Linked DNA regions of Homo sapiens. The protein of the gene in region 1 purifies or fractionates together with the protein of each later gene. This does not show direct contact. Each region holds a gene or a part of one and is shown in the gene's direction. Other genes may lie near its edges.

The links.
Region 2: the proteins of CCDC74A (region 1) and RGPD8 purify together in Homo sapiens (affinity purification with mass spectrometry; one large-scale study listed by BioGRID and IntAct). This does not show direct contact.

What each region holds. Positions count from the first base shown.
Region 1 is NC_000002.12:131,526,193-131,530,107, forward strand, and holds the start of CCDC74A (coiled-coil domain-containing protein 74A), read left to right. Parts: upstream 1-1,695; 5' UTR 1,696-1,778; coding exon 1,779-2,028; coding exon of another isoform or gene 2,029-2,154; intron 2,155-3,454; coding exon 3,455-3,499; intron 3,500-3,505; exon of another isoform or gene 3,506-3,785; coding exon of another isoform or gene 3,786-3,915.
Region 2 is NC_000002.12:112,398,948-112,402,762, reverse strand, and holds part of RGPD8 (RANBP2-like and GRIP domain-containing protein 8), read left to right. Parts: intron 1-914; coding exon 915-1,096; intron 1,097-1,179; coding exon 1,180-1,355; intron 1,356-1,522; coding exon 1,523-1,646; intron 1,647-2,568; coding exon 2,569-2,727; intron 2,728-2,993; coding exon 2,994-3,131; intron 3,132-3,393; coding exon 3,394-3,540; intron 3,541-3,815.

The sequences.
Region 1 (3,915 bases):
CTTGAAGGCAGTGGCATGATCTCAGCTCACTGCAACCTCCACCTCCTGGATTCAAGCAATCCTCCCACCTTAGCCTCCCAAGTAGCTGGAATTACAGGTGCATGCCACCACGCTAGCTAATTTTTGTATTTTTTAGTAGAGATGGGATATCACCATGTTGGCCAGGCTGGTCTTGAACTCCTGACCTCAAATGATCTGCCCAACTTGGCCTCCCAAAGTGCTGGGATTACAGACATGAGCCACCCTGCCTGGCCTTCACATTTTCTTTAGATTATTTCTTAGAATGTCTACTTCTCTGTTCCCATTATCAGTCTGTAATCTCATGTTGTCCACTTTTTCCATTAGAGCCCTTAGCATATTAATCATAGTTGTATTCCATTTCTTGGTCTGATAATTCCAACATCTCTGCCATATTTAAGTCTGGCTCTGATGTTTGCTGTGTCTTCAAACTGTGTTGTTTTTTATTATGCCTTGCAAGTTTTTGTTGAGGGCTGGTCGTGCTCAACCAGTAAATGGACTTTCTGTGTGAAGTTTTATGTTGGTCTGGTTAGGGGTTGCGCCATGTGTTCTGTTTGTTAACTGGAGGTGTCAGAGGCTTAAACCTCCTCTAGTGTCTTAGTTTTTGTCTCCCTGTTGCCTTTACGGTTTCCTAGAGATTTCTTGAATAAGCTCTGAGATGAGCAGTTCTTTCACTTGTATCCCCTGTTATTATACAGGAGCCCCGCTGATGTGGCAGTAAGATGTGGGGAAAGGAGAGCCAGAGCAGGCTGGGGTTAGCTATGTTCCCTTCCTCCAGGTTTGCTGGTATCTGGCAAAATTATGATTGGCCTGGCTGTGATTTTTTTTTTTTTTTTGAGGGCAGGCCTTGTAAAAAAAATAAGACTTCTTTTTATTTTTATTATTTTTAAATTTATTTATTTATTTATTTATTTTTTGAGACACAGTCTCACCCTGTCACCCAGGCTGGAGTGCAATGGCGCGATCTTGGCTCACTGCAACCTCCACCTCCTGGGTTCAAGTGATTCTCCTGCCTCAGCCTCCGGAGTAGCTGGGATTACAGGTGTGAGCCACCGCGCCCAGCCTCTTATTTTTAGGCAGCATCTCACTCTGTCACTTAGGCTGGAGTTCAGTGGTGCCATCATAGCTCACTGCAGCCTCGACCTCTGGGGTTCCAGCAATCCTCCCGCCTTAGCCTCCCGAGCAGTTGGGACTACAGGCGCAAGACACCATGCCCGGGTTTTTTTTCTTTTAATTTTTTAGAGACGGGGTCTCACTTTCCATTCAGGCTGGAAAGGATGCCTGGATGCCTTTTATTATTATTTTTTTAGACAGAGTCTCTGTCGTCCAGATTGGAGTGCAGCGGTGCGATCTCGACTCACTGCAACCTCTGCCTCCCGGTTCAAGCTATTCTCCTGCCTCAGCCTCCAGAGTAGCTGGGATTACTGGCTCCCGCCACTACACCCGGCTACATTTTGTATTTTTAGTAGAGTTGGGGTTTCGCCATGTTGGTCAGGCTGGTCACGAACTCCTGACCTCAAATGATCCGTCCGCCTCGGCCTCCCAAACTTCGGGGATTACAGGCGTGAGCCCCGGCGCCCAGCCCTGGATGCCTTGTAAATCACTACTCACCCAGGAAGAGCCAGCGACAGGCCCCGCCCCCGCCAACCGCCTCGCGCCTTCCGTCGCCCGGTTTCCATGGTGACGGGGCGCCAGGCTAGGGCGGCCTGGCCACTGAGCCGGGGTGCAGTGGCAGCGGGAGAGTACCTGGCGATGGCGATATGAGCGGTGCGGGGGTGGCGGCTGGGACGCGGCCCCCCAGCTCGCCGACCCCGGGCTCTCGGCGCCGGCGCCAGCGCCCCTCTGTGGGCGTCCAGTCCTTGAGGCCGCAGAGCCCGCAGCTCAGGCAGAGCGACCCGCAGAAACGGAACCTGGACCTGGAGAAAAGCCTGCAGTTCCTGCAGCAGCAGCACTCGGAGATGCTGGCCAAGCTCCATGAGGAGATCGAGCATCTGAAGCGGGAAAACAAGGGTGAGCCGGCGCGGGGCCCTAGGCCGGCCCTGCCTCCCCAGGCACACTCAACACTGCCGCTCCCGCAGCACAGAAACACAGCCATCAACTCCAGCACACGCCTGGGCTCAGGGGGAACACAGGACGGTAAGCCCGCCCTGCCACGCTGAGCTGTCCCCTCCTCCCAGAGGGAGACCCGCGTGGCCCCCGGGCAGTGCCGACCCTGTCTGCCTGTCTCGTAGGGCAGCAGCATTTCAGATGCTGACTCCGCCAATCCTCTCCTCTCCAAGCAGGGTCAGACACACCTCTGTTAAAAACTTTATAGAGGGGCCCGGGCGCGGCGGCTCACGCCTGTAATTCCAGCACTTTGGGAGGCCGAGACGGGCGGATCACGAGGTCAGGAGATCGAGACCATCCTGGCTAACACGGTGAAATCTCGTCTCTACTAAAAATACAAAACAATTAGCTAGGCGTGGTGGTGGGCGTCTGTAGTCCCAGCTACTCGGGAGGCTGAAGCAGGAGAATGGCGTGAACCCGGGAGGCGGAGCTTGCAGTGAGCCGAGATCTTGCGACTGCACTCCAGCCTCGGTGACAGAGCGAGACTCCGTCTCAAAAAAACAAAAACAAAAACTTTATACAGGGAAACGTGCCCAAGTGCGAGTGCGCAGCTCAATGAATTTCTTCCAGCTAAACACATCGGATCAGGAGCAGGCATTCCCCCGCCCCCCACCCCGTCCCCGCTTCGCCTGTGCCCATGCTGTCCTCCGGCGGGGCCTTCCCAACTGCACCCTTAGCTGCTCCTCACCCCCACGCCCCCCTTTCTCCCTCCCTCCTCCCCCACCCCTCCTGCCCCGAGCAGAAGGAGGGCCCGCCAGGATGTGGGATGTGGCTCCGCTCCTCGATCTTGCTTCAGGAGGGCTCCAGCAAGGGCACCAGTGCCCGCGGCCTCCTCTCCCGCCCCGTTCCCTGGTGCTGCCTTACCTGAGTGCCGAGTATCCCATCACCAGGCGTCTGTTTTGTCAGGACCCCGCTTCCCCATGTCTTCTTGAGCCTCAGGACGCCCAGTTCCTAATGTCTTCTTGAGCCTCCCCCGCAGTCCCTGATCCCCACGGGATCATGACACTGCCATAGCCAGGGGTTCCGGAGTTCACCTCTGTACCCCTAAAGCCCAGGCCCTGCCTGGGCAGTGTGGATGCCCTCCAGTCATCTCAGATGGATGAGGCCGATATGCCCGGTGGGCTCTGCCTAGGGAACAGGCAGGGCCATTCCTGGCCTGACACCCACGACGAAGGCGTGGTGGAGAGCGGGATCCATGGGGCAGGGCCCAATCAGCCAGTGGGGGGGCAGGACTTTTGGGCTCAGCAGCCAGGAGAGGACAGGCCAGGCTTCTTCTCTCAGAATAGCTGTGGTTTCACAAGTGCTGAGGAGAGCGTGTGCTTGCTTTCAGATCTCCATTACAAGCTCATAATGAATCAGACATCACAGAAGAAAGGTGAGAACTGGGCCCTTCAGTGACTGATGGGATGCTCTTGCCACCCAGGGGAGCCCCTCCAGACTGTCCTTGCCCACCTGGCTGCACTGGCCCCTGTATGCCAACCCAGTGGGTACAGGTTCTGGGGGACCTGGACAGATGCCGCTACCTCTAGCCGTGGCTGGACGATGTTATGCAGCCAAGCACAGCACGTGCTGCTCTCGGGAAGCCCAGGGCCTGAGGTCATTGCAGTGGGGAGGTGGGCACAGGGTGCTCCCCAGACCTCCCTCCTCCAAGTAGAGCTGAAATGGGAAGGAACCCCTGGGACAGCCCCTGCCCTGCTAGATCTTTGCCTCAGATTGCTGCTGTGGCCAGGCCCAGGATTTCCAGCCCTATGGCTCTGAGTCCTCACATGCTGGGGGCCCAGGGGCTCTGGA
Region 2 (3,815 bases), about 19 Mb from region 1:
TTGCTTGCTACTTTCTGTTATTGGGCATCCAAGTTTTCTCAACTTTTCCACTGTTAATAATCATACTCTGATAAAAACTTCAACAAAAAGTGTCTTCATTGCAAGTTATTTCCATAGAGATACCTAAAAACAGAATTACTGAGACAAAGGACATGAACATCTTTAAGTCTTGCAAATTGCCAAAATGACAGAAAGATTATACCTCTTCATGCTTCCAGAAGCGCATAACCTTTTCTTTTCTTTTCTTTTCTTTTCTTTTCTTTTCTTGTTTTTGAGACAGAGTCTCGCTCTGTCACCCAGGCTGGAGCGCAGTGGCGCAATCTCGGCTGCCAGGTTCAAGCAATTGTCTTGCCTCGGCCTCCCAAGTAGCTGGGACTATAGGCATGTGACACCGTGCTCGGCTAATTTTTTGTATTTTTAGTAGAGACGGAGTTTCACCATGCTGGCCAGGCTGGTCTCGAACTCCTGACTGCGCATAACATTTTCAATATTGACTTTCTTGTAGAAAAACAGATTTCTTTACTGTACCGATGGATTAATATAGTGGTGTTCCATTGCTTTAATGACTTAAAGCAAAACCCATTGTTTTGGGGTTTCTTATTAGGTTAGGTGTTCTTTATTTGGCTTTTGTCAGTTGATTTTGGTTTATTGAGTTCTAGTCAGTGTCATTTTTTAAGATGGACTTAAACATTCTTCATCACTACTATTTTTATTAAAATTTCTAGAAATAATCAAGTGAGAATGCATTTAATAAGAACATGAGATTTTGCCTAACATAGAATTCCCTCCAGCTTTGATATAGAAAAGCAGTTATATAATTAAGATATATATAATGTGAATTGTTTATGTTGGCAAAACTAATGGCACAAAGAAAAATTTCAAACCCTTAAGCCAATTTTTAAATTTTATTTCAGGTGCTATTCGAGCACATAATGGTAGTCTTCAGCATCTTACTTGGCTTGGCTTACAGTGGAATTCATTGCCTGCTTTACCTGGAATCCGAAAATGGCTAAAACAGCTTTTCCATCGTTTGCCCCATGAAACCTCAAGGCTTGAAACAAATGCGCCTGAATCAATATGTATTTTAGATCTTGAAGTAAGCAAAGATTTTAACAAATTAAATATTCTGAATTTTGTTTAATTTTTTTTTCTAACTTAACTTTTCCTTAAATGAAACAGGTATTTCTCCTTGGAGTAGTATATACCAGCCACTTACAATTAAAGGAGAAATGTAATTCTCACCATAGCTCCTATCAGCCGTTATGCCTGCCCTTTCCTGTGTGTAAACAGCTTTGTACAGAAAGACAAAAATCTTGGTGGGATGCGGTTTGTACTCTGATTCACAGAAAAGCAGTGTAAGTAGTAAAACAAAAATATTGCTTTCACTTAGTGCGTAGGTTTTACCGGGGATTTAATCCTCGTGTGAAGATTTAATTTGTCATGTGACCCATTAACATATATGTATGTAAGCGCTGAACTGTGTATTTAGAAAGCAATTTTAGTAAATTGAACTATTTTTTAGACCTGGAAACTTGGCAAAATTGAGACTTCTAGTTCAGCATGAAATAAACACTCTAAGAGCCCAGGAAAAACATGGCCTTCAACCTGCTCTGCTTGTACATTGGGCAAAATACCTTCAGAAAACGGTGAGTTTTAAAGTATAAGCATTTTTAATGAACATTACCTTAATTTTTTAAAATCATGAACTTTTTATTGAAAGTTTTTTTGTTCTGAAAACAGCAGCTTGGTCATATTATGACAGATGTGTTTTTTATTGCTGCAAAATAGTTAATGTAGTTAAATATAAGCACTTAGAGGAGCAATGCCTGGCACACAGTGAATGTTACATATTAGCTGAGCTGTTACTGTTATTCCTTAATAATTAAGTTCTGATAATTATTCAGCCTGAAAATTAAAAAAAAAATTAGCACAAGGCTTTGTAGGTAAGACCATTATAGATCTTTCTAAATATTTAAGGTGTGTTTTGTGTCACCATTAGGTGTAGATGGTCAGCCTTTTGAACAAACTGACACTACAGAAGAGGCAGGTTTCAGCTATCTAAAAAGGACAACTGTTAAAAAGTAGTTTGGATTGCTACGTTAGAGTGGTATCATTAGAAGCATTTAAAAGTTGAGTGTAGAGGCCGGGTGCGGTGGCTCACACCTGTAATCCCAGCACGTTAGGAGGCCGAGGCGGGCAGATCACAAGGTCAGGAGGTCGAGATCATTCCTGGCTAACACGGTGAAACCCCGTCTCTGCTAAAAATACAAAAAAAAACTCTACTAAAACTACAAAATTAGCCAGACATGGTGGCAGGTGCCTGTAATCCCAGCTACTTGGGAAGCTGAGGCAGGAGAATTGCTTGAACCTGCACGGCAGAGGTTGCAGTGAGTTCACTGGTATTAAGGTGGTTTAGTTATTACAGTATTTGGAAGTTGAACAAATGACTATTGAGGTACCATTTGGTTTTGACTTGAAATTTTAGCCAGTTCTTACAACTTGTAAATGAACTTTAGATCTAATCATGCGTGTTCCTTAAAGTTGTGTGCTTTTAACTTTCTTTTTTAGGGCAGCGGTCTTAATTCTTTTTATGGTCAACTAGAATACATAGGGAGAAGTGTTCATTATTGGAAGAAAGTTTTGCCATTGTTGAAGATAATAAAGAAGAACAGTATTCCTGAACCTATTGATCCTCTGTTTAAACATTTTCATAGTGTAGACATTCAGGTAACAGAGTTCCTTTATGAATTTATTGGAGATGGGAATTTCCAGTTTATAAACAAAGACGTGGAGCTATAAACTGCTTAAATTAATTGCCTTGTTATTTAACGGTAATCTTGTTTTCTAAATTCACTAGCTCTCACAGATAAGATATGACAGAGAAGAGTAATGAGATGTTTGTCTCTTAAGATCATATAAAATCTTTGGAAAATCATTTGGGTTTTATATTCTGAGTATAAACAATTTGACTAAAAACTATTCTATGTGTTTAGGCATCAGAAATTGTTGAATATGAAGAAGACGCACACATAACTTTTGCTATATTGGATGCAGTAAATGGAAATATAGAAGATGCTGTGACTGCTTTTGAATCTATAAAAAGTGTTGTTTCTTATTGGAATCTTGCACTGGTAAGTAGATGCAGTACTTGAGCTAAAAGTTGTATTTATTTATTTATTATTTTTTTTAAAAGACGGGGTTTCTCTGTTGGCCAGGCTAGAGTGCAGTGGCACAATCTTGGCTCACTGCAACCTCTGCTTCCCAGGCTCAAGCGATTCTTGTGCCTCAGCTCCCGAGTTGCTGGGATTACAGGCATGAGCCACCATGCGTGGCCAAGCTGAAAGTTTTTTGTTTTAAAAAGCTAATGATTTCATGAAAGCACTATTTGTATAGATTTTTCACAGGAAGGCAGAAGACATTGAAAATGATGCCCTTTCTCCTGAAGAACAAGAAGAATGCAGAAATTATCTGACAAAGACCAGGGACTACCTAATAAAGATTATAGATGACGGTGATTCAAATCTTTCAGTGGTCAAGAAAGTAAGTAGCAGGTTGTTGTATGTACGTTCTTACTGATAACCCACTGGTCAGTGTTTTTGCGTTGGTCTTATATTTTGGTAATTTCAAAAATACTCAGTAATATGTTGTTATTAATGCACAGAAGGGATGCGTGTGTCTAAATGCTTAGATTTGCTTGCTTTGTCTTAGGTTTGGTGTGTCTTTTTAAACTTGGGAATCTAGGTATATGCTCTTAAAAAGTACTTCTTGGGGAATTAGAAAAGATTTCTAAGATAAGACATTGATTTTGTTATCTT